Homo sapiens: one gene and its partners. The protein of the gene in region 5 interacts with the protein of the main gene of each other region in a biochemical or structural test. Each region holds a gene or a part of one and is shown on either strand. Other genes may lie near its edges.

Region 1 (4,069 bases), on a different chromosome or scaffold from region 5:
TGTTGATGCTATAGTGTGCAATCTAATTATTTATTTAATATGTGGACATGTGCACACACATACACATTTCTGTTATGGGATGTTAGCAAGCTGAATATTTCATTATTCAACATGGTAAAGTGATAGAATGTTTGTGCTGCAAGTTTCTAAGCCTGTCAAGATTTTCAAAAAAATTATCATCTTTTAAGATGTGTTAAGAATTAATGTTGAGGCCAGGTGCAGTGGCTCATGCCTGCAATCCCAACACTTTAGGAGGCTGAGGCTGGTGGAGCACTTGAGGTCAGGAGTTCGAGGCCAGCCTGGTCAACATGGTGAAACCCCATCTCTACTAAAAATACAAAAATTAGCTGGGTGTGGTGGTGGGATCCTGTAATCCCAGCACTTTAAGAAGCTGAGGCTGGTGGACCACTTGAGGTCAGGAGTTCGAGAACAGCCTGATCAACATGGTGAAACCTCATCTGTACTAAAAATACAAAAATTAGCTGAGCATGATGGCGTGCACTTATAGTCCCAGCTACTCAGGAGGCTGAGGCAGGAGAATCGCTTGAGCCCAGGAGGCAGAGGTTGCAGTGAGCTGAGATTGTGTCACTGCACTCCAGCCTGGGCGACAGAGTGAGACTCTATCTTAAAATAATAATAATAATAATGATAATAATAAGAATAGACAGGGCACGGTGGCTCATGCCTGTAATCCCAGAACTTTGGGAGGCCGAGGCAGGTGGATCACGAGGTCAGAGTTTAAGACCAGTCTGACCAACATGGTGAAACCCTGTCTCTATTAAAAATACAAAAATTAGCTGGGCATGGTGGTGGGCATCTGTAATCCCAGCTACTCAGGAGGCTGAGGCAGGAGAATCAATTGAACCCGGGAGGCGGAGGTTCCAGTGAGCTGAGATTGTGCCACTGCACTCCAGCCTGAGCGACAGAGCAAGATTCCGTATATATATATATAATAAAATACATATAATAATGTTGAGAATAGGAAGATAATTAAACAAATCAGTAAACTGAAAACAAAATTATATCAGGCAGATAAATGACATGAGTGTAACATAAAAAATCTAGAATACATTGAACTTGTTTTTGTAAAATGGGAAAAAGACAATAAAAATAATATACTAATCACACTGTGATCTTTTACTAGTTATGAATCCATTAAGGACAGCAGTTCTGCTCATTTTTCTTTTTATTCTCAGTTTCAAGTGGGGTACTTGGAACATATTAGGAGTTCAAAGTGTTTAGTTGAATGAATATGTGACTTCAAGGCAAAATGATGTTAATAATCTCAAACTATGCTATGAGAAATGTTGCACAAGTTATACTATGGGAAATGTGTCAACAGCAGCCATAAGACCAAGGATAATCTCTACGATTATTCAGAATATACAGGTGTAATCACGCCATCCAGTACGCAAATAAAACTGATGGCTTACATCATGTCATCTTCATCCTATAGTGATAGCCTAAGTATTCAAATAGATACATTAATATTTTAGAGTAAAAAAAATTACTTATTGGGGAAGCTACCTCAGTTTGTTTTCAGCTGGCATATTGATAAGCAACACACATTTTTTACTCTTAAATTTCTGCAATTAGTTTGAAGTAGTGCCTGGGTCAACATTTGAATACTACTGTACTGTATTAACAATTGTCCCCAAGCTTCCCAAACTGGATATATTCTTAATGGAAAAACATTTTATTTATTCCCTCTGCTTCATTTGAGATGATCATTTGCTCTAAAAAATTACCATGATAGAGATGATGGATTAAACCCTTTGATTTTGTTTTCATCTTCATTTATGGTTACACATTAAAAAAAGAACAAGCAACATATCAAATGATGTAGTTCAAATTGTTGGCCCTACCTGCTCCACCTCATTGGCAGTGGGCTGCATTGCTTCATTATGCTCTTCTTCCAACATCTCCAAGTTTAACTCCTCTAAGAATTCATTCCTTTCATCTTCCAGCCAGCCTTCATCCAGCTGCAAAAGAATACATTAGTACATTATATTATGTTAGTGAGAACTCATGTTAAAATAGAGTAAACTTAAATGGCCGGTGCCCGACGAGTTCCTTTTATCATAATGATTCTCTTCAGAATACCAGCCTCCCACAGTTCACCTCTCAGAAAGAAGAAAAGGTGATAAAAAAAAAAAAAAAGGACTCTTATGCCTTTTATCCTTTCCTGAAATGGGACTACAGATTTTCTCTCATAACCAAGTAAATCTCACAGCACAGAATATTACCTTCTTTCAAAATGTATGAAAAGCATCCTGCATAATCCACAGCTGTCATGCTCATTACCTCCAACAGTCCCGTGTTAAAAGGACTGCCATGCTACTAATTGGGCTATGAGACAATTGGGCTGTTTTCTTTAACAACAACCCCCAACGAGACTGCACACAAAGTTCCCCCCATACGCTCGTGCTATCCTCATCCTGCTTTTTTCTTTTTAGGTGGGCTCCCATGTCAACAAGATGGCTGCTTGCCACAAAAGAATGTACAGAAGACATTTATTTTGTCTGTGAAGAAAGGAAAATTCTAAGTTATTCTTCTCAAGGAAAGGAAAGAAAAGCAATATTACTCCATGTCTATTTTAATTTGTTTTCAGGCCCAATTTTATAGGAAAAACACCTCAGTGGATGCGACATTTAAGGGTGGTGGAGTGGTGTGGGGCATGCAGGGTTTTGTTTATGGGTGTTGAAAACAAGTATTCTTGTAGGACTCTTAATGCAAATTGAACTGAACAAATCCCTTCGGCTTTTCAATACAAAGTGAAGTGGAAAACTGGTGGTTACCTGGCTAATATGATCTAATATGATCAGTGTTGACAGTTACTACAGATAATTTGCCTCAAAGTGGATTTTTGGAGCTGGATTACATAAATTAGCTGTCTATGCTGATTAAATTAACTGGATTATCGTCAAAACTCTGCATCACCCTGTACAAAGAAATAGCATTCTAGTGAGCAAACATGGATAATAGTTTGAGATATTTTCACCACCAATGAACTGGCAAAATAAGCTTTTAAACATAACTGAACTTCTACAACTTAAAAACAAACTGGAAAGGACATTCAGCTGCACCAAAAGAGGCATTAGCATACAGGTATCATCTTTATTAATATGCAGGCAAATCATAGATTTCATGATATCTATTAAAGGCCATGTAGAACTTAAATGACCTCAAACTTAACTGGGGCCCAAAGTGCTGGCACATTTGTTCATCCTCATTTATCTTAATGTCGCCTGAATAATTTGATCAAATTCCTGTGACTTTGATATGCAGATGAGCTATGAAAATTATGCCAAGTAAAAATGTAAATTCAGCCCAATTTATAATTGTTCAAATTTTACATTCTTTAATCTTTTTCAAGTATCATAAAGCTACAAATGCCAGACATCATAAAAAATTACTTAAAATGGGGAGTGCTTACTATTCACAAACACATCAAGGAATTTTTCTTTAATCAGGTCAAAATAAAGTATTTTCTAACACTGATATATTGAATGATGAAACAGAGTCCTTTGAGGATTAAATGAAGTAGTGGGGAAAATAAAGAGAAAATGGTCAAAATTAATGATTCCCCATAACTCTTTTCTTATTGAGTAATCCAGTAGATTCCTGAGTTGCCAGCCATAGTCATTATATGTCTATTTTGATAAGGCTTTCTTTTAGGCTGGAGGTGCACACAGCACAATTAGCAAAGGGAGATTCTTCTTGCTCACTTCCTTCTTCTCTCCTATTTCCCCCTTTCTACCTAGATGTACATTCACTATGGTCTGAGTCTAATGTAACGGCAGAGACAGACATCTCCCTTGAGCTGAGCTGCAGGAAAAGAGGGATTGTTACTACTAAGAGTGGGGATCTATCTGCACCAAAGGGGGCCACATGTGGCATCTCAGAAAAAGGAACAACCTACACTGTCTCAAAGGTAGTGGCTACAAGTTCTTATGAGAATCCTCTCTGCCCCAGTGTCCTGAGGGAAATAGGACAGAAAAGCAATATCTTTAATGGTCTCAGGAAGAAAATGGGCAGAAAATGAAAGAGAGTTGACAGGAAATGAGGA
Region 2 (4,069 bases), on a different chromosome or scaffold from region 5:
TCACCACTGGAGAGGGAGAAGGAGCTGTCTCCATGCTCTATGGTTGGTTCTTTGGGGGCAATCCCATCCAGGTCTTGAGATAGAGGTAAGATTTGGGAAGGCCTTGCCTGAGCAGTATCTGGGCCAGATGAACCTGGGTTAGAACAGTGAGGAGTGCTTGCTGAGGAGCTGGCAGCAGGGACAACACCAGAATTCTCTTTATTGTTGGGGTCAATCCGGAAGCGAATGGCAGAAATAGAAGACACTCGAGAGTCGATGACTGATTTGGTTTCCATGGTCTCGGGCTCCATCTCCATGACCCTGGAGGCTGGGTTTGTGCTCTTGGTCTCCCTCAGAGGAGCCAGCAGCCCCAAGGCCTTGGTCTCCAGAAGGCCAGGCTCACCCTGCATGTCCTGCAGAGAGGACACAGTTGGGGAGGGTGCACCAAGGGCCAGGTAGGGCTCCCTGTCATAGTAGCACACGTCGTCTACACTCTCCAGGGAGGCTGATGGCACCAGGGGAAATGAGACCTGAGAGGTGTAGTCGGTCTGTAGGAAAGACCTTCTTTTCCTCAGGGTCTTGGCATATTTCTTCACCCCTCCCCTCCTGCTTGGCTGTCTTCCATCTGGCCCACAAGGCAGGCTGTTCTCAGGGCTAGAAGTGCTGGCCTTATTCTGCAAGCTTGTGGCACTGGGTTCTGCAGTAGAAACATCTCTGGGCCCTGGGAGTCAGGAAAGAAAAAATACATTAAAAAGCACAAAAAAAAGAGGTTAATAGAGCTTGGGCTCAGGCCTTGGGCTTTCCTGGGTTTAAATTCTGGCTAGGCTGTGTAACCTTGAGCAAGTTCAATCCTGATCTCCTCAACTTCCTCATCTGAAAGATGGGGATAATAATTGTGACAGATTTTTTTTTATTTTTTTGAGACGGAGTCTCTTTCTGTCACCCAGGCTGGAGTGCAGTGGCGTGATCTCGGCTCACTGCAACCTCTGCCTCCCAGGTTCAAGCAATTCTCCTGCCTCATCCCCCCGGAGTAGCTGAGATTACAGGCATCTGCCACCATGCCCAGCTAATTTTTGTATTTTTAGTAGAGATGGGGTTTCACCATATTGGTCAGGGTGGTCTCGAACTCCTGACCTCAAATGATCCGCCTACCTAGGCCTGGGATTACAGGCATGAGCCACCGCGCCTGGCCGACTTTTTTTTTTCTTTTTTTTTGAGACAGGGTCTCACTCTGTCCCCCAGGCTATAGTGCAGTGGTGTGACGGCTCACAGCAGCCTTGAACTCCTGAGTTCAAGCAATCCTCCCACCTCAGCCTCCCAAGGTGCTTGGATTATAGGATTGAGCCACTGCACCCAGCTGTGATAGACATTATTAAATTTTTGGATGCCTAAGATCCATTTAATTATCTTTTGGTCACAGCATCTCAACTTCTGTTTAGGGAATGACATCTCCCCAATGGTTAGAGTCTGCTGGAACTGTTCACGAAGATGCTCTGTCCACGCCAGCCAATCAGCTACAAATTCTCCAGAATTCCAAACCCAAAGACATTAAAAAAAAAAAAAAAAAAAAAAAAAAAAAAAAAAAAAAAGCAGAGCCATTCTTTCCAACCACAATAGCTTGATAATACAGGTAGGGAATCCTGTGACTAGACTCTTAGCCTGGTTGCTGTCTATTTCTGAACCCAGGTCTTCAGGCTTGCCAGCAATTCTATAAACAATCTTACTTCCTAACACTTTTTCTTTGTGCTGATGTTAACCCAAGTCTTTTAGTGCCAATGGTGCCATTCAGTGCTGCCGTGCAGGTTAAAGGAATTAGTGCATTTTTATAAAGCACCCAGCACAAGGCCTCTGCCTCATTAGGTATTCACTAAAAGGAAGCTGCTCGTTATTGCCATTTCATGTCTGAATGTAAAGGGGCCACAACTCTGTCACAGGCATCGAGTTTTGTGCATCCCAGGATGGATCTTTCTGGGAGGAGAGGCACTATTGTAAAGAACCCTTGGGAATCAGCCAGAAGGAATTAGGATCAGAGCCTAGCACTTGAGAATCAGAGAGCTTGGGTAGTCAGACCAGTCATTTCTAACCTGGCTGTATGCTATTAGAAACCTTATCAAGTCCTAGGCTGCTCCCCACAATCTCTGAGGAGTCAGAATCTCTGAGGCTAGGGCCTAGGGATCTATAAGGTTTAGGTTTTTTTGTTTTTTGTTTTTTGAGACAGAATCTTGCTCTGTTGGCCAGGCTAGAGTTCAGTGGTGCAATCTCGGCTCACTGCAGCCTCTGCCTCCCAGGTTCCAGTGATTCTCCTACCTCAGCCTCCTGGGTAGCTGGGATTACAGGTGCACGCCACCATGCCTGGCTAATTTTTGTACTTTTAGTAAAGATGGGGTTTTGCCATGTTGGCCAGGCTAGTCTCAAACTCCCAACCTCAGGTGATCTGCCTGCTTCTGCCTCCCAAAGTGCTGGGATTACAAGTGTGAACCACTGCGCCCGGCCAAATCTATAGTTTTTAAACAAGGTCCCTCAGGTGATTCTGATGCCCAGTCACATTTGACTGCCCTAGGCTACTGACAGCCACCGACCAAGGAGTTTCTAAGTCCCAAAGACAAAGAGGCTCCAATAGTCAGTCAGGGGCCAAATCAGAACCCAGGCTGAGGAATCCTAGTTCTGGCTCTTTTCTCAGCACTACACTGGCTCCCTATAAAAAACAAAAACAAAAACAAAACAGTGTCTGGTATGAACCCCATATGTTCCTGACTAGACTCCCATAAAAGGGCCCTGACTGATGGTTTCTGCCACACTTCCATCCTGCCCCCCGGCACAATGGCTGGCCCTGCAGGGCAAGGCTGGGGCATGGAAAGTGGTTGTCTGGGTACTTTGGGGAGCAGTAAGGAGTCTGGCCATGGTTTCTCCTTTCCTTAGAGGTACAGTCAATTGAACTCAGTGTAGATGGTGGAGACTTCATTCATTCATTTAACAACAATTGCTAGACGCTGTGTGCTGGGGACACAGTGAGAAACACACAGTTCTAACGCTCAAAGGAGTTCTCGGTCTAGTGATGGAGAGAAACATCAACACAGAATCATACAAGTAAATATGTAATTTACAGGCTGTGCGAGGTGCCAGACAGGGAGAGCCCCAGGTAATGCAAGAACATGTGACAGAGATGGGGAGACTTGCCCTGGCCTGGGAAGCCTGGGAAATGTTCTCTGAGGAAGTGAATTCCAACCGGAATCTGATAGACGGATGGGCACCATCAGCCACGATCTGGGGAGGAGTGTTTCGGTCAGAAAGAGCAGCATGTGCAAAGGCTGGAGGAGGGGGAAAAAACAGGCACTTGTAGAAAGTGGCAAGGAGGTCTGTATGGCAGGAATGCAGGAGGAGGGAGAGAGACAGGCAGAGGCCATGTCACAGAGGGCCTCAAAGGGCCTGATGGGGCTCCCAGAGGAGCTGGCCTTTCTCTCCAGAACAGTGGGAGAGCACAGGAGGTCTGGGAATAGAGGATCAGAGAGCAGCAGGAAAGTGCCGAGACAGGAACAAGGGCTGCAGCTCTCCCAGCTCCTGGCAGGTCACCTTCAACATCCATGTGCTCTTTTCCAATATGTTTCCTTCAGAATGCAGTGTGTGTGTGTGTGTGTGTGTGTGTGTGTGTGTGTGTGTGTCCTGCCAGGATCTCAGTTCTGCTTGGAAAGACCCTCCACACTCTCGGTGGAGGAATGTATGAGGAACCTGATAGAAACACAGCCACCAGATCCCCTACCTTCTGATGTCAGGGTCCCTTGGACCCCAGAAGGCCTTGCAGGGCCACAGACGGCCTGTCTGTCTGGTTCTTCTTGCTTCAAGGCCTCCTTTAATGCAGCCTCAGGATCAGTGATGACATAGCCACTTCGCTCTGCCGGGCACTCCTGTCAAGCCCTTTCCTTTTTTGTAAATTCTGTCCCTCCCACAGGGCCCAGCCCATTTGCCCCCTCTTCTGGGAAGCCTTCCCTGATTCCCACTGTTGGATGAATCCCTCCCATCTGCTTGCCACAGTTGTCTGAACCTCCCTTGCAGGCCTGCCACGATGCCTAAAATTTGGTCCATGGAATCTGTA
Region 3 (4,069 bases), on a different chromosome or scaffold from region 5:
AACATATTCTACGCTCTCTGAACTCAAGTCTGCCCAGTGTCTGGCATATAGCAGGTGCTTGAGAGTGCTGTTTCCTCAGACTCACCCATGTTGAGAGTGACCGTGATGATGTTGAGTGACATGGTGGAGTCCGTGATGCTGCTGAAGGACGAGGACTGGAATAGACAGAGGCCCTGAGCAGCAGGTGGAGGTGGCAGGAATTCACTCCCACCTGACTCCTCCTCAAGGTGAGTCCCCGGTGCAGCCCCCAGCCCCAAGGTTCTCAACACTGCACTAGGGGGATGGGATCTAAGGAAGAACAAGCCTTGGCCCTGCGTAGGAAGGGCTCACAATCTGCCTCCACCCATCCCTAGCCTCCCAGACCCCATACCCGCTCAATCCGAGAAACCTTCTGCTTCCGCCGCCGCCGCTTGTGTCTTCTCATCAGGCGTGAGGCACTGCTCTGTTCTGTGGAGCTGCTGAACCTGTGGGGCCCACAGTCGTTCCCCACCAGGCTGGCCCAGCCCTGCCCCCATGAGGGGAGGCACTGCAGGGCCTGGGTCCCCAACACAAAGCCCATAAGCCTCCCAGGGGCCCCGCATCCTCAGGGTTTAGGGCTCCTCCAGGGTCACCTGCCCCACAATACCCATGAAACTCAAGCCCCACCTGCTGGTGGAGTCATCCTCATCTGAGTCAAAGAAGCTGGTGGTCTCCAGCTCACTGCTCATAAGGGTGGATGAGCTATCATAACCCCCTGGTTCTCGCCGCCGTTCCCCCTTCGCAGTTCCATTTAGCCGGGTTGCTGCAGGGGATGGAAGCAGTTGGGTTTACACAGTGCCCAGTGCAGGGGTGAAGGAGGGAGAGAGGCAAGCCAGGGGCTGCACTGGGGCCAGGCATATCCTGAGCTCGGGAAGTAGGGCAAGAAGGTGGGTAGCTGGGTGGAAAGTGAGGGGAGGGTGTGAGGTGCGGACAGTGTCCGTGTTCAGGAAGATATACCATGCTCTGGGCCATCCCTCCGGCGTGGCCGCTCTCGCTGGGCAGACACCAAAGAGTCCGTCTCTGTGTCATTGTCCAGGTTCTCCTGGCTGCCCCCACCAGCATGAGGGCTGCAGGGAAGAGACTTGATGGGGGAGGGGGCAGGCTGGGGGCTCCCTCCCCCAGCCCTGGGCTGAACTGATGCGGCCCTCCCCACCCTCAGGTCACACTCACTGGAAGGATGGGGGTCGGGAGTCCCCGATGCCTCCCGTGCGCTCCATAGGTGGTGGCAGCTCCGATGGGTTATCAGCACAGAAGGGGGCTGGGTCTGGGTGTGAGCCCTCAGCTGACACCAGCTGAAAGGGAGAAACTGAGTGAGTAGTATGTTACAGGAGCATCAAGGAGAAGGGGATAGTTCACTTCCAGCAAGGCATGAAGGCCTAAGAGGAAGGAAGCAGGAAATATCGAGGGAGAAAAGACAGGGCTGTGCGAGGGTGGCTGAGATGAACAGTGGCCCCTCTGCCACTTCCTGCTATTGACGGGGTTGTTGGAAGGCATGGGGTGGTGAAGTGGAATGGGGACAAAGAACAAGGCTCAGAGGTCTAAGGCAGAGATGAGCAGATGGCAGAAGGAAATCTGAGGCAAGTGTCTGAACGGCATAGGAAACGTTACTGTCTCCACTGTGTGTTTCCGTCTCTCCCTCTTCCCCCTTCCCACTAATTTCTCACTTTTCATCAAAGGTTACAGAATCTGGGGTGAGAAGCAGTTCATTTGCAAAACTAAAGAAAGATTCAGATACTGAAGCTTAAAACCACCAGCTACAATCTCAGTGATGCCTTTCCCTCGTCCAGCCCAGCACAGGGATGCAGGTGGATGGAAGGCTGAGGGCTCCTTACCCAGGACACCACCCGGCCATTGAAGCATGGTAGCTTGGCATTGTCATCCGAGATCTCCTCCTTCACCACTCTGCAGAGAAAGGGGGATGTCACAGAGAACCTTCTAGGGTGCAAATGGAGGATCCTCAAATCCCAACTCTCAGGGGCTCCTCCATCCTAAACTGGGAATCAAACCACCAGCACAAGACTGTTCAAATGAAAGCAGAGGTTGGGGAGACCCAGAGACAGCTCTTTGGCACCACCAGGAAGACACCAGCCCTGCCTAGGCCAGATACCTTCCCGGGGCATCCTCTCAGTCATCAGGTGATTGCAAATTACAACTGACACATCACTGTCCCCCATGCCACTCCCTAAAATCTCTAAAGTGCTCTACCCATCCCCAACATGACTCTCCTGGGCTAGACTTTCTCTTTCCCTCTGATCCCTAATTGGAAAAAAGCATACAATTATAACTGTCCTTCCTTTCTTAAGTGGGAATCCTAACATTGTTGTGGGAGGTATGGACAAAGAATTTAAGAAAATTAGAAAAGAGAAGGGGAGGCCAGGCGTGATAGCTCACACCTGTAATCCCAGAACTTTGAGAGGCTGAGGCAGGCAGATCACCCTGAGGTCAGGAGTACGAGACCAGCCTGGCTAACATGGCAAAACCCCATCTCTACTAAAAATACAAAAATTAGCCGGGTGTGGTGGTGTGCACCCATCTACTTGGGTGTCTTCCCATCTCTGTACTCCTGGCATATTTGACAGTCTGAGGGTCCTCAAACTTTTCCACTCCCCTTCCTAGCCCCAAACTGTAGTTACTGCCTGACTTCTTGCCTCACCACATTCCCCCGGCCAAACTACATGCCCCGTGACCACATTCCACACCCTTCATGCCTCACATCATTGTCCTCCAGCACCCACTCTCCACATAGACCCACGTTACCTCTGTTATTATATAGGAAAGAATGTGAAATACAGTGGAAAGAGTATGGATTTTGGAGTCAAGCCTGGGGTGAAATTCCAGCTCTGACATCTACCAGTCCTGTGATCCCAGCTACTTGGGAGGCTAAGGCAGGCGAATCACTTGAATCGGGCAGGTGGAGGTTGCAGTGAGCTGAGATCACGCCACTGTGCTCCAGCCTGGGCAACAGAGTGAGACTCCGTGTCAAAAAAAAAAAAAAAAAGAAAAGAAAAAGAAAAAGAGAAGGGGAGAAGGCATTTACTGAACATTTTCCACATGCCATTATGATAATTAACAGTAATAATTGCTCTTTCTCACGCTGGTAATCTCAGCACTTTGGGAGGCCAAGGCAGGAGGATCGCTTGAGGCCAGGAGTTTTGAGACCTGCCTGGTCAACATAGCGAGGTGCCGGCTCTACAAAACAAAACAAATACAAAAATTAGCCGAGCGTGGTAGCGTATGCCTGTGGTCCCAGCTACTTGGAAGGCTGAGGTGGGACGATCGCTTGAGCCTAGGAGTTCAAGGCTGCAGTGAGCTATCATTGTGCCACTGCACTCCAGCCTGGGTGACAGAGCAAGACCCTGTCTCAAAAAAAAAAAAAAAATTGCTGTCATTTATTGAGCATAAATGAGTATTATGGGCCAAGCACTATGCTAAACACTTTACTTATATAATTTCATTTAATACAACAATGCTATAAGGCAGCAGGTACAATGGGGAAACTAGGCTCAATAGGTTCAGTAATTCTCCTAAACTGCTGAAATTTGAATCCTGGTTAGCCTGACTCTAACATCTGCATTCTTACCATTACACCACCTTATCTTCCTATAGTTAGAACCTATAATCTTCACATCAGCCTCAGTGGGCAGACTATGATCTTCATTTCATGAATAAGGAAACTGAGATGTATTCAGTTAACTTGTCCAAGGTCACAGGACTGGTAGATGTCAGAGCTGGAATTTCACCCCAGGCTTGACTCCAAAATCCATACTCTTTCCACTGTATTTCACATTCTTTCCTATATAATAACAGAGGTAATGTGGGTCTATGTGGAGAGTGGGTGCTGGAGGACAATGATGTGAGGCATGAAGGGTGTGGAATGTGGTCACGGAGCATGTAGTTTGGCCGGGGGAATGTGGTGAGGCAAGAAGTCAGGCAGTAACTACAGTTTGGGGCTAGGAAGGGGAGTGGAAAAGTTTGAGGACCCTCAGACTGTCAAATATGCCAGGAGTACAGAGATGGGAAGACATGACCAAGGGTAAGATGACGCATGCCA
Region 4 (4,069 bases), on a different chromosome or scaffold from region 5:
TAAGAGGATTATACAGCCTTATCTGTTATCATGCAACTTGCAATGCCACCTGTGGAAGGACTATACATCCTTACCCCACTGACAGTGAGCTCTGACCATATGACTTGCTTTGGCCACTGACATGTGAGCTGATGTGACATACAACATGACTGAGTGAAAGCTTTAAGAGCCATTGTATGTCTGCATCTGTTTTCTTGCTCTCTCCCTCATCCACAATAATGGCACAGCCCAGACAGGGGATGCTCCTTGAGCCAGGGTTCCAAAATAAGAAACGTGAAGCAATGCTGCAGTCAATCCACAGCTGACAAGGTGTAGCATAAGCAAGAAGAAAAGCAGTGTTGTAAGCCACTGAAATTTGATAGTGTTGCTACAGCAGCATAACCTAGCAAAAGAAGACAGATACACTTATTATGGAGTAGGTGCAAAAAATAAAATTATAGGCTGGTATATATTTTTAAATGTTTCAGAAGATAAACCAAAAAAATTAACTATTGTTACCTATGAGGAGAAGGTATGAAAACTAACAGGTGTGTAGGAATACTTTTTTTTATACCATTTTATATGATTTGAATTTTCTGTGTGTGTATGCGTGTGTGCGTTTAACCTGAGCAGCAACATCTGGGTAGTTGGATCATTTGGGCCATTTATTTTTCTTCCTTCTGCTTTTCAGTATTAAAAAATAAAAATATAATAAGGCTACCGATAATTACTTAAAAATGAATAAGAACTATTCTTATACCCTTGAAGAACTCACGTATTAGCTAACAATTTAGCTTTAAATAAAGCCTTCCCCCATTCATTGTTAATTTTTTTAACGTCCAAGGCTAAATACTGTATATATATATATATTTAGGAGTATGACATACGCCATTTCGTTTTTTTTTTTTTTTTTTTTGAGACGGAGTCTCGCTCTGTGCCCAGGCTGGAGTGCAGTGGCGCGATCTCGGCTCACTGCAAGCTCCACCTCCTGGGTTCATGCCATTCTCCTGCCTCAGCCTCCCCAGCAGCTGGGACTACAGGCACCCGCCACCACACTCGGCTAATTTTTTCTATTTTTAGCAGAGACGGGGTTTCACCGTGTTAGCCAGAATGGTCTTGATCTCCTGACCTCCTGAACCGCCCACCTCGGTCTCCCAAAGTGCTGGGATTACAGGCGTGAGCCACTACGCCCGGCCTGTTATATGCATTTCTATCAGTTTGCTCACTTTCAGGTTTCAGCAAAGCAATATAGTGTTTTGTATATGGATGGTACAGTTACTAATCTCAAAGGAAATTCTCACAATTTCATTATTTTAGTATGCCAGTTAAATTGGCAAAGAGGTTTGCTCTAGTTACAGTTGTTCAAGGGAGAGAATACAGTCATGGGTTCTTAGTTTCTGTTTCTGGATGGGCCAGTAAAGCCCCTTCCTCATCCCTCTTTCCGTTTTATCACTAGAGACAGAAACTAAAAACCATGGCTTCAGGCTGCTGAAAGCCTAAAACAAAACAAAACAGAAGAACAACAGCAAAATAAGGCAGGTTGGACAAGCTTGCTAGGTGTTAAGTTTGGTAAATATGCCTTAACCAGTACTAGAGCAAGGAATCTATTAAGGAAACTCTTCTAGGGTAAAATCATAAAGGAGCATTGAAAGAAAGGAAAAAAAGGGGAAAAATTCTAATCATGACTCTTGTGGTGATAAAACAACACTTGAATGGTTACAGAAATCAAGTTTAATAGAGTAACACTTTACTACATGAACAAGTTTTAACTTCAAGAGAGCAATATCTGAACATAGCAGTAACCTGCAAATGACTAAGAACATGTCTGTACTTTTCATCCTAAGATCTCAAAGCACTTCACAAACATTCATTTAACTCTCATATCACCTGAGAAGTAGTGATATAATAATACATCATTATAACCATCTATCCTGCCAATACAAAATATTTAAATACCTCTTCAGCAGCACTTGCCCTAAGAAGGTCTTGCTAAACAGCCAATAAAACAGGAAATAGGCTGACAGTGCATATGCCACCAACAATCTCTGAAAAGATCAGACCTTCACCCACAAGAACCACTTCCTCTCAGTAAACCACAGAGACTGTACTGGGCAAACCACAACATATCGGCTTGTGTCTGGAACATAGGCAGATAACCCATCTAAAATCTATGGAAGGGTATGTCTAAGCACCTTCACAGGATTTCTTGTGTTAGCAAGTGTATTTGGGGTATCTGTTACTCTTCTGGATAACATATAGCCACTTTCTGCATTACAAGATCAATTTCAGGTATCATTCCTTCAGAGGCTGATGAAGTCTCCAGTTTTTTTTTTTTTTTTTTTTTTTTTTTTTGAGACGGAGTCTTGCTCTGTCATCCAGGTAGGAGTGCAGTGGTGCAATCTTGGCTAACTGCAACCTCCGCCTCCCGGGTTCAAGTGATTCTCCTGTCTTAGCCTCCCGAGTAGCTGGGATTACAGGCATGTGCCACCTGGTCCGGCTCATTTTTGTATTTTTAATAGAGACAGGGTTTCACCATGCTGACCAGGCTAGTCTTGAACTCTTGACCTCAAGTGATCCGCCCACCTCAGCCTTCCAAAGTGCTGGGATTTACAGGCATGAGCCACCGCGCCTGGCCAGTTTTTCTACAACAAAATAATCTACATTTTTTTGAATCCATAAAAGATCTACAAAGTCCTCTTTGATCTTTTGAGTATATGAATGTAAAATCAACATTTATATGTAATATTTGACAAAAACTGTAGTATCAGAGTGTACCTTTAAATGACTCTAATGTGTTATATAACACCAAAAGAAAAAGCAGTGTGACAAGCAGCTAATTGAAAGCATTAACTAAAACCAGGCTCTCTTATATAGTTCCAATTTCTGCATGAATTGTTACTTGCAGTCCAAGACAGGAAACCTACTTTTCATTGGCCAGTAGATTTGCTTGTCTCTAGACACTGAGAAGCCACCCAGGCCTGTCATGTGACTGTGATCTCAAAAACCAGGACTCAGCATTTGAATTAGTAAAAGATCCTGTTTCGGTATGAATCTAAACTGCATTGGTGCATGCTAATTCAAGAGGTAAAGTTAGTGTATTTTTTCTTTTACTAAAAGTCGACACTATATACTCATGCAATTTAGGCACAGCCTCTGACCAGGCACTAGCTTCATAGGCTTCTATTGGAGTTAGAAGCTGTCTTATAGCGGTCTTCCCTATATGACTATCTTGATGATTCCAGATATTCTAAGTTGAAAAAGTAAAATGCTCTAAATTTGGCATGTTTGCAAATTTTAGTATTACCAAAATACAAAATATTAATATTAGCAAAATACAAAACAAGGACATCTATCTCAATAATTTGAAACTAAAATAGTACTAAAGAAAATATGCTAATAAAGTATTCAAAAGGTCTACAGTCTTACAGATTTTATAATAATCTAAATATGCACTTTTTCTGTTACACTGTCTTGTCATTAACAATTCTTGTAAATACAACAGCAAGAAAGTAAAATATTTCAATTTTCACAATATCCATTTTACTGAAAAAAAAAATACTGCTAAGCATTGTTATTTCACTAACATGTGGAAATAAGAGGAGACAAAACAATAAGGTAAAAATAAACCAAACATCGAGGAATGTTTTGACCTACAATTTAAGATAACGAACTGAAAAACCACTGGAAAAAATAAGAAACAACTTCCTGATGTATTTCATCATATTGCAACAAGATGATTTTCCATCAAAGGTGGCTAACATTATTTCTATACCCTACCCTTTTGTCATAGAATTGATAACATTTGTTACATTGAGGGTACTCATATTTGAAAGAATCGCTTTGTAAAAAAGCCTTTTAGAACATGAGTAATTGCTTAATTAGTTGATTTGGTAATCATGCTGTTTGTATAAATTTGTTTCATTTGACTGTGACATATCTCATATCCATCCTAAAGACTATCTAAAATAAAAGTGAATCAAAATGACCTTGAGAATCTCTTTACCCATATTTTTGCAGTAGGAGAGCAACTGAGAAAAAGCTAATGAAATATTAAGATAAGCTGATTTTTAGACAATGGATCAACAGAAAG
Region 5 (4,069 bases):
GAAAATAAATGAATCCACTTTTTAAGATATATCAGTACTTTTTTATATGGTTTTGAGGTATAACTGATATACAAAAATGCATATCTTTAACATTTACAATTTGATGAGTTTGGATATATACGCACACCCTCATGACACACCACAACCAAGGTAATAAACATATCCATCACCTCTCAAAGTTCCGTTTCCCTTCCCCTAACCTCGTGTGTGCGTGTGTGTGTGTGTGTGTGTGTGTGTATGTGTGTGTGTTTAGAACACTGAACATGGAGTCTACCCTCTTAAATTTTTAAGTGCACAACACTACGTTGTTAACTACAGGTATCATGTTGTATAACATAGAGTAGTATTTGTTTCATTTTACAAAAATCCACTCCTAATACCTGAGACTGAAACAAATTTAAGAGGAAAATTTTTAACTGTGTCTGTGACAGTCTTATCAGAAGTATGAAACTTAATGCTTTTGAGAAAAAGACACCTGTAAGAAAAAAATAAATGCTCAATTAAGTTGCATACCTTGGCATCCCAGTCTTTATTAAGATAATATATACATGTCACACATCTTCCATCTCCATTTGGATTATCAACATGACGTACATAACCCGTTCCATTGCCCGGATAACAAGCAACCATGGCCTGTAATAATGATAATAATGATTATTAAAGTCCATGTATAAATAAAAAGAGAGAACAGCTAATAAATCAGATCTCTGATTTTTGGCTACTGATTTACACTTAGATTCTTCTAATAAAAATAATATTTTGTAGATAAGATAAGGCTATTCTACATTAACATTTATAGGGAACACAAGATAGGTTGATGAACAAGGACTGGTGAATTCTGCTTCACAGTGATAACTCCAAAGATCAGAAAAATTTCTTGGTCCTACTTTGACAATCTTTATAAATACAGATAATCAAGATCAAGTACGTTTTTGTCCTGCTCCATGGGAGATTTCAATCTTCCTTGAGCTCACCTCAGAACACCTACTTTACCATCTGATAGGTGAACCAACCCAGTCAACACCCCATCTGACACTGTCTCTGAATGGTACCAATTTTTTTTTTTTTTGAGACAGGGTCTGGCTCTGTTGCTCAGGTTCGAGTGCAGTGATGCAATCATGGCTCACTGCGGCCTCAACCTCCTGGGCTCAGGTGATTCTCCCACCTCAGCCTCCTAAGTAGCTAGGACTATAAGCACGTGTCACCAGGCTGGTTAATTTTTGTATTTTTTGTAGATATGGTGTCTTACTATGTTGTAATAGGGATAATTTAGGAGGTCAACTAAACTCCAAACATTAACTCATTTAGTGTCAGTGATTTTTTTTTAAAAAAAGGACTAAACAAATTAGCTTATGTTTACCCTCTTTCAATCAGAAAGAAAATTATTTGCTCAGATTATAACAAGATATGGTTCAGAAGACTGTTGGATGTTAAGCTTAAAGGTAGAAAAGAGGCCCAAAATAAAAAGCACAAAATAACTTCCATATTCTAGGTGTACATGATAATTAACTGAAATTGGTAATGGTATTTTTTAAAAAATTCTCAGGAATTATGAAGAAAACAAACAAAGACGTTCAAGGTTATGAGCTATTCTTGTTTTTGTTTGTTTTTTTACAGAGTCTTGCTCTGTTGACCAGGCTAGAGTGCAGTGGCACGATCTCAGCTCACTGCCTCCACCTTCCAGGTTCAAGCGATTCTCCTGCCTCGGCCTCCCGAGTAGCTGGGATTACAGGTGCATGCTGCCAGGCCCGGCTAATTTTTGTATTTTTAGTAGATACAGGGTTTCACCATGTTGGCCAAGCTGGTCTTAAACTCCTGACCTCAAGTGATCCTCCTGCCTCAGCCTCCCAAAGTGCTGGAATTACAGGCTTGAGCCACCACGCCACCCGGTTTGTTATGAGCTATTCTTGAAGTCCTTTATTTCTTCATATAATAAAGTCAATGAATTAGTATAAAGTTATCAAACAGTAACCGAATTGTTCTACTATCATATTAAAAGAAAAATGCTAATTTTTAAAACTCACTTCCCATCCCTAAGAAACTAAGAGGCATCTTAAACCTAAATCCTTATTTAAAAATCCTGTTTCCCTAGACACTCTGAATTCACTGCTCTTTATAAGCAGCAGAATTTTTGGAGAACATTATATATGTCTCTGTTTTTCCTGATTCCAGACAGACTTAACAAGTTCCTTCTTTCAGCACTGGAGGTTGGTAACAACCAGGAGTGTGGCATGGGCTTAGTGGGTTTAAGTGCTCAATAAATGATGAGCCCAAATGATTTTCTTGTCACTAGCTACCCAGGAAAGAAGTTTACCTTGAATAGTAACTGTAAGAGGGTACTAATTTAACAATGCAATTACTCCATTTGTGGTTAACTGAAGTAATTATGATGAATTACACAATATATTGTTATTCATGGGAAAGAAGGGGGAAACCTGAACTCTACATCTCAAAAAAGTTAATTTGGGCCTTTCCAACTATCTGGTAACTTCAGCATCTCTTGTGTAAAGAAGGAAGGGGAAAATATTTGTCAGTCACTCACCCCATCACATCCCATATATCCATTTAACAAATACCTCTTGAACATCGACTATGTATATGAAAGGCACTGGGGCTAAAACGATGAACCAAAGAGAAAAGGTCCCTTGCACTCATTTACATAGTCCCTCCTTATAAGAAGTTTTGCTTTCTGTGATTTCAGTTACCTTTGGTCAACTTAGTCCAAAAAATTTAATAGAAAATTCCAGAAATAAACAGTTTATAAATTGCACACCATTCTGAGTAGTGCACTGAAATACCTTGCAGTCCTGCCCCGTTTTGCCTGGGATGAATCATCCCTTTGTCCAGCATATCCACACTGTAGATGCTATCCACCCATTAGTCATTTAGTAGCCTTCTAGGTCATCAGAGCAATCGTCGTGGTACTTGTGTTCAAGGAAACCTTATTTTATTTAATAACAGCTCCAAAGTGCAAGAGTAGCGATGCTGGCATACTGTTATAATTGTCCTATTTTACTGTTGTTGTTAATCTCTTACTTTATAAATTAAGCTTTATTATAGGTATGTATGTACAGGAAAAAATATAGTATATTAGGATTTGGTACTATCCACAGTTTCAGGCATCCACTTGGTCTCGGAAGGTATTGCCCTCAGATAAGAGGGGACTATTGTACTATGAAATCTGGTCTAACAGCATAATTAGCCAATAAACAGATATATAATGTAATGTTAGGTAGTGAAAAGTTGTATTTTCTTAAGATATGAAAAAAATTAGGTATATAGAGAAAGATGACATGATATTCTTGAACAGTGGTTGACATTTGGGTTTAGACTTAAATGAAGGGAGCGGCAAGTTGGGCAAATCTCTGAAGAGAGAGCAATGTGGCAGAGGGAAAATGAGTGCTCAAAGGCTGAACAAGGCAGGAAAGAGCAGCAGGCCAGTGTGGCTGGAACACAGCGAGCACGGGCCAATGTGATCAGAGAGGAACCAGGTAACCTAGAGCTGCAGGGCTTGGTAAGCCACAGGAAGGCCTTTGGATATTGTGCTAAGAAGGGCCAGGAAGCCAACAGAGAATGTATCTGACTAATGTTTTGAGAATATCAGTTTCAAGTCTGTATGAATAAAAACAACCACAACAACCTCAATATCTCTTACCACCTAACATTTATGGGACATTTACTGTTTGCCATGTCCTATCTAAGTAATTTGTGCATAACAAGTTGTCTGACACAACCATGTGAGGTAAACAGTATCACTGTTCTCATCCTCATTCCTCTAAACTGAGGTTTAGAAAGGCTAATTAGTATTCGCAAAGTCACATGACAGGGAATCTGGTTCCAGAACCCATGGAATTAACCACTGTACTAGACTGCAGGAAGCAAAGAGTGAAAAGAGAAGACTAAGTTAGCTATTAAAGTTTCCGGGCAAGAAACCAAAGAGGCTGAGCCCAGAGTAGCAAAGTGGGGTGTATTCTGAAGGCAGAAAACCAACATGATTTGCTAATGAGTGGAGAGTAAGAAGAGTCAAGAATGACTACGGGGTTTTCAGCCTAGGTAAGTAAATGAATGG
Region 6 (4,069 bases), on a different chromosome or scaffold from region 5:
CCAAGTTACCAACATGATATCACTAGAACATACAGTTTGGGGAAGACGTGCAATAGTTACAGTATTTTCACCATATAGAAATAATAAACATAAATAGCATAGAGAGCAATAAATTTAGTAAAATAATTAGTAAGTCAGAGGTGTGGGTATTTATTATCTTTTAAAAATAGTTTTAACATCACAGTGATGTTAGTGCCAAAAATATACTTCATCCCCAAATTCTGTACTCCTACCTTACCTCTTACCTCTTTTTATTCCAAAGCAGGAATAATGGTGACATTTAAAAAACAATATCTAAAACATCATCTTCATTTTTTTTTCCTATTCTTAGCCCCTTTGGTTAAATTTCTCACTTTTGGGTCTGTATCTTCAGAGGACCACTGCCCTACACATCTGGAAATGTTTTTCTGCTCCAAGTCATAAATCTCCAATCCCAACCCATGGCTACCTACTCAAACTCTTTATTTCAAAGGACTCCTTCATCAGAAATTGGGCAGAAAAAGATCAATGAAGTGAGTACAGCTGTTTACCCAAAATGCCACAGACTGTCCATTCTACATCTACACATTTTATTTTTAAGAATAGTTAAATGGCACCATAGAGCAAATAAATAAGTAAAACGTTAATTATAAAGACTTATTTTCTGGAAATACCTATGTATTTTGAATAAAATGGATTACACCTTCTCCCTTCATCCATGTACCCTTTCATTCAGTTCACATCTATTGTACACTACAATGGACACTGGAGACACAAAAATGACAAAAACACAGTCTGTGACCTCAAGGACCTTGCCCTCTCACACGGAAGACAGACAATAGAAAAAATAATGGCAAATCCAGTGATTCTAATATCACACTACATATAAAATCCACCCATGGAAAGTGGCATAAACCAAACTAGACTAGACTGTTATGAAGATCCCAATCAGGGGCTAAGAGTTCCCTTGTATCTTATTGTCCACATGCTTTGTTGATTAGCAACAGTTTAAACATTAAGATCCCATCAAGATAAACCAAAGGAAAGATCATCTCCAACTGCTTATGAGATTTTGAAGGCATCATCCAGTGGTAACACACTGAGATGCAAGGCTTTTTGTAAAGAATTGACAAAGGTATTAGCTCCCTGCTTCCTATCTGTGGCCCTCTGCCAATGCCTCGTCTCTGCATTTGTTTCTCCCCTCCCTTTCTACGGCTTTCCTTTTCCCCATGTTTATTCCTATTCTCCTTCATCTAAATGTGCCATCTGTAAAAGCCTACTTTGAAAAAGATCACTGTTAAATTCTGAACCCTTATTTTCCTGTTCTTAATATAAAGTTCATAAGTTTATGGCCTCAGAAGTCTCTCTCTCTCTTTCTTAACAAAAGAACTGACTAAACTAAGTTATTTTTATTTCCATGTTGCTTTTGGCTGGTTTTCTTTTGTGCGTCAGAGGCTTCCAAAAGGTTCCCAACTCTAGATCCAAAAAGTTCAAAAAATGATTGAGTACAGAATAAAATATTGCCCTCATCCAGAGGGGAGCTGAGGGTCACGGGCATTAGGAGCAACGGGGGAAGCAATCCAGGATTCTGGAGCCCTAGGAAGCAAGACCTGCCATGACCCAGTCGGCCATAATGTGGGCCCTTATTTAGCAGATTAGCTCTAGTATGGTCATAACAATTATTAAAATATTGAAATGCTTCCCTCTGGAAATATTGCACATAACACCCAACCCCTTCCAAATACACCTGGCCTCCCAGACTCTCCCAGGATCCCTGGCCCAATCTCCTCACAATCAGGAGTTAAGGCCTGGCCCAGCAGAGGATCTCCAGGACCCTGCCCCAGTGCTTCTACCCTTTGACATACCCATGCTCCACCTTAATTTCGTTTTCCGAAAAATAAAGGACTTGAACAGATTGTCTGAGTTGCACTATAATTGCAATTATGTCAAAGAACAAGGACGAAATGGAAATAAAAAAACCTAAAAAAAAGTTTGTTAAGAGGATGGAATCACAGGTTATGTTTTTTTCTAGACAGACAGCAGTGTCAAAACTCTGGGTGCAAGCTGCCTGGGATGGATCCCCAGCTCTACCATGTGCTAGTTGTGGGATCTCACTATGCCTCAAACTGCCTCATCTATAAAATGGGCATAGGCCAGGCTCAGTGGCTCATGCCTGTGAATCCCAGCACGTTTGGAAGCCAAGGTAGGAGGACCACTTGAACCCAGAAGTCTGAAACTAGCCTGGGTGACATAGCAAGACCTCATCTCTACAAAATAAAATACAGTAAAACAAACATAAATAAATAAATTAAACGGCCATAATAAGATTACCTACTTTACAGGGTTGTTCTGAGGGTTAAATGTATTCATGTTTGTAAAATGCTTAGATGAGTGCAAGGCACAAAGTAAACACCACGTAAGTGTTTATTAAATAAATAATTCATTTTATTCTGTCGTTGTAATGTTTGCTCAATAAATTTAAAAATTAAGAAAGTTTCACAACAGAAAAAAAACACTGTGACACTATGAAACACTTACGTAACATACACTTTTGCTTAATAACCCAGCACTAAAACAGCTGGGGTCCAGATTTTACACTGCACTGTGAATTTAGGGAAACTAACACACTGGAATGTGTTCCCACTGAAGCATAAGATGCGATTTGTATGATTCTCTTTGTAATCAGAAATGTCACAGGCTTATGGGAAAGTTAGGTTTACATGTTTCTCATTTTAACCCTGCAACAACTTTTAGCCACACCCTAGCAAATACATTTTATTTTGTGGTGCTAAGACTTAAAGGATTGTAAACACAAAACCAGACCTTGCAGAGCTACAGCTTTTCTTGTGAACACAATGACTCAGCCTAACTACAAGTTTAAAGAGACATATCTTATGTGTTGGGTCCCCTAGTATCAATCTTTAGTAAACATCTGGGATGGACAGGAAATTGCTACACACTGCTTTTAGTTACTAAAAAGGCAACACTACCTGAGCTCAAGCATAGTTTAGATAGGTACTATTTGCACTGCTATAGAGGACAACACTGACAATTGTTATTTTTCTGATAGATACTCAGGAGAGGAAATGATCAATAACAATAATTCCCTTACGTGTTCCTTCCTCTTGACAGCTAAACCCCACAATACCCTTAGACACAAGTTTAAATACATCACAAGCTTATCCTCAAACAGTAATGTATTAGGTCTTTCCTGCTGTAGATAAGATTTGTTAAACAGTCTGGCTATGGCTTTTTACCTTTTCTCTTTTAAAAGTGCATTTCTCAGCTGGGTATGGTAGCTCATGCCTGTAATCCAGCACTTTGGGAAGCCGAAGTAGGAGGATTGCGGGAGCCCAGCTGTTCAAGACCAGCCCTAGCAACACAGTGAGACGCCATCTTTATAAAAATACAAACAAAACTGGCCAAGGATGGTGATGCGCACCTCTAGTTCCAGCTACTCAGAAACTGAGATGGGAGTATCACTTGAGCCTAGGAGGTCAAGGCTGTTGTGCCACTACACTCCAACCTGGGCAACAGAGTGAGACCCTGTCTCAAAAAAAAAAGTTTAAAAGGTGCATTTCTCTAAAGCTACGAGAAGGAACTCAAACCTTGCTTAGTGATAAAACTAAAGCCTGCAACACAACCATTATCATTAAAATGTTATTAAAACCCTGTAAGAAAGATGAAGAGTCTTGTGGATGGATGGTGGTGACGGTAGCACAACGATGTGAATGTATTTAATGCCACTACATGTACACTTAAAAATGGCTACAATGGTAAATTTTATGTTGTACATATTTTACCACAACAAAAGTGAAATTATAAGAGAAAAAAAATTTTTTAAAAAAACATCCTGTAAGAGAACATTTATACACTGTCGGTTGGAACGTAAATTAGTTCAGTCACTGTGGAAAGCAGTTGCAGATTTCTCAAAGAACTCAAAACGGAACTACCATTCAACCCAGCAGCCCCATTACTGGGTATATATCCAAAAGAAAATAAGTTGTTCTACCAAAAACACACACAAATTCATATGTTCACCACAGCACTAGTCACAATAGCAAAGACATGGAGTCAGCCTAGATGCCCA
Region 7 (4,069 bases), on a different chromosome or scaffold from region 5:
GCCAAGAAATTAAAAAGTAAAACTGAGAAAACTAGTGCAACAGAAGGCTGTCTTGACTGTGTTTGTGTGTGAGTGATGAGTGATGGTGAGATGGTACTGGTTATAGTTTGAGGAAAGAGTGGTGATCTTAGCTGTGAAAGGATAAGTTAGAGAAACATAGTTCAAGTTCTGCTCTTTCCTTTTCGCCATCATTAACTAAAAAAAGTCTCCTTGCAACAATAAACAGTACTAAACAGGATGTAGAACAAAGGAATCTTTTATATATTGCTGATGTAAATTTTTACAAGCAGCCTGGAAAACAACAGGATGGTTTTTAAAAAGAATGCTACTAGTAGGATAATCAATAATCCCATGACAGTCAAGTAAAATTCTTGTACATGTTCACCAGAACACACAGCAGCTCTTCCCAGGAAAATTATTCATAATACCAAAAAAAAAAAAAAAAAAAAAAGACTTAAAATAGATTTTTAAAAACCAGTACTTGCTAGTATATTTTTAAAAACCAACTTCCTACTATGCCAGATCCAGTTTATGTGCCTTTTCAGATTCTGCTAGGCCTTGGCTGCTTGCTCAGTGGAGAGTCCTGACTATTATACTACTTTCATCTTGTCTCCTGCCCTTCCCAGTTTTCTGAGCCTCTTCTGGCTGGGACTGGGCATGGCTGATGTGTTCCACACAGTGAGGGCCATAACATGTCACAAACCTATGTTTGACCTGTCATACCACTGCAACTCTACCATTTTTGGGCTTGGGTGAAGTGTTGTGCCATGGAGTATAGGAGCTGGCTTCCCTAGAAACTGCGCCCAGGGGAGTTGGGTAACACAATCCAAAAGCTTGGGACAAATAACCCCTAGGGGGTAGACAAGAGACAGGAGAATAAAAGGGCCAGCAGATAAACCTTTCTTTCTTTTCTCTGGATGGCTGGATGTAAGGTTTATGATGCCCGGATGGTTTTTACAGTGTCTGCCTAGAAGACTGTTATACATGACAAGCAACAAGCTACCTTATAAAATTACAGCCAGCTCAGACACATTCTACCTTCTATTGGCTCTCGTTCATTCTCTGCTTCACTCCTCATTTTTACTCACTCTAGCCTTCTTGAGATCACACAGCCAAATAATACCTTAGCACTTTAGCTTTTCTTCAGATTCCGTTTCCCTAAGGAACATGGACTGAGACAGTTATTGATTGATATGGTATGGCTCTGTGTCCCCACCCAAATGTCATCCTGAATTGTAATCCCCATGTGTTGGGGGAGGGACCTTGTAGGAGGTGATTAGATCACGGAGGTGGCTCCCCATGATGTTCTCTTGATAGTGAGTGAGTCTCATGAGATGTGATTGTTTTATAAGCATCTGGCATTTCCACTGCTGGCACGTCTCTCTCCTGCTGGCATGTGAAGAAGGGCGTGTTTGCTTTCCCCCACCCTCCACCATGACTGTAAGTTTCCTGAGTCTGGTGAGTCAATTAAACCGCTTTCCTTTATAAATTACCCAGTCTCGGGTAATTCTTCATAGCAGTGTGAAAACAAACTAATACACTGATGAAGACTGGACAAATAAATTGCAGTACAGACATACAGTGGAATAGTATGTAGAGATAAAATGAATGAACTTTAGCTCTAAGCAATGATATGGGTAAGTCTCAGTAAAGCAATATTGAGTGAAAAAAATACTGGAGATGAAAGTCTCATACAGTGCAATAGTGTTTTGAAAAAGCTTCAAAACAAATAATACTAAACAAAATTATTTAGGCATATGTATATAATTAAACTTTTTTTTTTTTTGAGATGGGCTTTCACTCTGTCACCCAGACTGCAGTGCAGTGGGACAATCACAGCTCACTGTAACCTCAACCTCCTGGGCTCAGGTGATCTTCTCACCTCAGCCTCCCAAGGAGCTGGGACTATAGGTGTATATCACCAGGTCTGGTTAATTTCTGTATTTTTTGTAGAGACAGGGTTTTGCCATGCTGCCCAGGCTGGTCTTAAACTCCTGGGCTCAAGCAATCTACCTACCTCAGCCTCCCAAAGTGCTAAGATTACAGACAGGTGTGAGCCACCACACCCGGCCTGATTAAACAATTTTTAAGAAGCAAAGGAATAAGAAACACAAAATGGTTGATGTTCTAATTCTTGGGCTGGGTAATTACTAGGTTTCATTATACTATTAAGTGAAGTAAAATAAAAAAGGGTCATGCATAAACAAATGATGACATTGTTTTATAAACCTAAGGATTATGATGAAACACTCTGTGCATACAAGCCCTCAACAACAACAAAGGAATAAAAGGAAAAGGGAGGAGGAGCTAGCAGAGAAAAGAGAAATGACAAATAAAGAATTACCAAGAATCATTTTTTAGGATTTGATACAGCAAGGCTAGTATTTGCTAATTTAAACATCATTTAGACCTTTTTGGTATGGAGAAATTCCAGTATCTATCAGAAAAATAAACAGACTACAAAATGATTTAAAAGACAATAGATTTCTTATACTTACTGCTAAAAGTTTATCTCCAATCTGAAGTTTGCCATCCTTATGTGCTGCACCTCCTTCAATTATTTTGGTTACATAGATGCTATTATCCCCAGGAATATGCTGATTTCCAACACCTCCAGCAATGCTAAACCCAAGACCTGTTTGGAAAACAGTTCTAGATTCTCATCCATAAATATGAACTTAAGCCCAGAAAGAAATGGTTGAAAACTACAAGGTAATTATTCCCTCACACTAATATTTTTTAAAATAGAAAAGAATCTATTTAGTTATCTACTAGTATATGTTCTGCAATCAAGGGACACTTAGACATACAGCTGCTCCTAGAGTTACGAATAGATTCCTTTTATCCCACATGTTCCTTCTTAGTATCTTTTCGCAAATGCACTTGTTATTCCAAAGTGACATTGCGAAATTATGTTTTACTTTTGTTTCCATCATAATTATGCTTACCTACACTTTTAATATTTTCACAAGAACAAAATTATTGAGAAGAAATAACAACATTGTCTGGTGATGGTGGGCAGAACCAACAGGCTTTAAAAATGTGAATACCTTTGTTCTTCTTCAATATTCTATGAATTAACAATTTTAAGTAAGGAATTTCTGTAATTCCTAAATCCCATAGCTTCAATATCAGATAATTTCTCAGCTCTCCATTCCTTTTTCATTTGTTGACATCCTCCCTCTTCCATGAAGCCACATATTGAAACTACTATTTCCATTTATCCTCAAGCCATCAATGTTTTAAAAATTCAGCAATCACATCTTAACAGTCCTTTACTGCAGATGTAACTGCTCATAATACATATTATAAACACTTCTTCTTTTAACTTAGCCTGTGTACCTGCATTTAAAGTATTTTGTAGATTATCACAAGTTAATAGCAATACTAAACTTCAAAGTGTTCAAGGACACAAATATTTCACTCTTTTAATGCTAGAAGTCTTCAATATAAGAATACTTAATACAAATAGGGACATATCCACTTATAAAACAAATAGATATTTTGTTCCCTACTTTTAAAAACTCTTAAAAACATGCTGAGCAAATATTGAATATAAAAATCATAAAAAACTTATAAATTTATATATATGCTCACTGCAGTAAAATGTATAAAAGCATACATCAATAAACGTAAGAATTTTGGGCCAGGTGCAGTGGCTCACACTTGTAATACCAGCACTCTGCGGGGCTGAGGTGGGAGAACTGCTTGAGCCCAGGAGTTTGAGACCAGCCTAGGCAATGCAGGGAGGCCTCCGTCTCTACAAAAAATAAAAAAAATCAGCCCAGTGTGGTGGTGTGTGCATGCAGTCCAAGCTACTTGGGAGGGTGAGGTGGGAGGATCGCTTGAGCTCAGGAGGCTGAGGCTGCAGTAAGCCATGACTGCACCACTGGACTCCAGCCAGGGTGACAGGGCAAAACCCTGCCTCAAAAAAACAAACAAAAAAACCCCGCAAAAAAAGGAACTTTTCAAATGCTGCAATCTTGGTAGAAATGTAAATATTCTAAAATGCTACGTAAGACAAAAATCAGTAGAAATAACGGAGAAATTAAAATCCACTCAAGTTCTG

Evidence for each region.
Region 1: the proteins of EGLN1 (region 5) and PDZRN4 interact in a test that uses a peptide from one of them, tested with the Homo sapiens proteins (one large-scale study listed by IntAct).
Region 2: the proteins of EGLN1 (region 5) and FRMPD1 interact in a test that uses a peptide from one of them, tested with the Homo sapiens proteins (one large-scale study listed by IntAct).
Region 3: the proteins of EGLN1 (region 5) and DVL3 interact in a test that uses a peptide from one of them, tested with the Homo sapiens proteins (one large-scale study listed by IntAct).
Region 4: the proteins of EGLN1 (region 5) and ARHGEF12 interact in a test that uses a peptide from one of them, tested with the Homo sapiens proteins (one large-scale study listed by IntAct).
Region 6: the proteins of EGLN1 (region 5) and PLD1 form a complex in vitro, tested with the Homo sapiens proteins (one study listed by BioGRID).
Region 7: the proteins of EGLN1 (region 5) and DLG1 interact in a test that uses a peptide from one of them, tested with the Homo sapiens proteins (one large-scale study listed by IntAct).

Annotation. Positions count from the first base shown.
Region 1 is NC_000012.12:41,565,696-41,569,764, reverse strand, and holds part of PDZRN4 (PDZ domain-containing RING finger protein 4), read right to left. Parts: intron 3,935-4,069; exon of another isoform or gene 3,459-3,934; intron 1,983-3,458; coding exon 1,866-1,982; intron 1-1,865.
Region 2 is NC_000009.12:37,741,020-37,745,088, reverse strand, and holds part of FRMPD1 (FERM and PDZ domain-containing protein 1), read right to left. Parts: exon of another isoform or gene 3,737-4,069; intron 701-3,736; coding exon 1-700. UniProt on the Homo sapiens protein: Stabilizes membrane-bound GPSM1, and thereby promotes its interaction with GNAI1.
Region 3 is NC_000003.12:184,161,508-184,165,576, reverse strand, and holds part of DVL3 (segment polarity protein dishevelled homolog DVL-3), read right to left. Parts: intron 1,921-4,069; coding exon 1,851-1,920; intron 1,311-1,850; coding exon 1,189-1,310; intron 1,086-1,188; coding exon 976-1,085; intron 782-975; coding exon 646-781; intron 465-645; coding exon 371-464; intron 156-370; coding exon 86-155; intron 1-85. UniProt on the Homo sapiens protein: Involved in the signal transduction pathway mediated by multiple Wnt genes.
Region 4 is NC_000011.10:120,342,528-120,346,596, reverse strand, and holds part of ARHGEF12 (rho guanine nucleotide exchange factor 12), read right to left. Parts: intron 1-4,069. UniProt on the Homo sapiens protein: May play a role in the regulation of RhoA GTPase by guanine nucleotide-binding alpha-12 (GNA12) and alpha-13 (GNA13). Acts as guanine nucleotide exchange factor (GEF) for RhoA GTPase and may act as GTPase-activating protein (GAP) for GNA12 and GNA13.
Region 5 is NC_000001.11:231,373,467-231,377,535, forward strand, and holds part of EGLN1 (egl nine homolog 1), read right to left. Parts: intron 634-4,069; coding exon 514-633; intron 1-513. UniProt on the Homo sapiens protein: Cellular oxygen sensor that catalyzes, under normoxic conditions, the post-translational formation of 4-hydroxyproline in hypoxia-inducible factor (HIF) alpha proteins.
Region 6 is NC_000003.12:171,803,763-171,807,831, forward strand, and holds part of PLD1 (phospholipase D1), read right to left. Parts: intron 1-4,069. UniProt on the Homo sapiens protein: Function as phospholipase selective for phosphatidylcholine. Implicated as a critical step in numerous cellular pathways, including signal transduction, membrane trafficking, and the regulation of mitosis.
Region 7 is NC_000003.12:197,134,044-197,138,112, forward strand, and holds part of DLG1 (disks large homolog 1), read right to left. Parts: intron 2,636-4,069; coding exon 2,499-2,635; intron 1-2,498. UniProt on the Homo sapiens protein: Essential multidomain scaffolding protein required for normal development. Recruits channels, receptors and signaling molecules to discrete plasma membrane domains in polarized cells.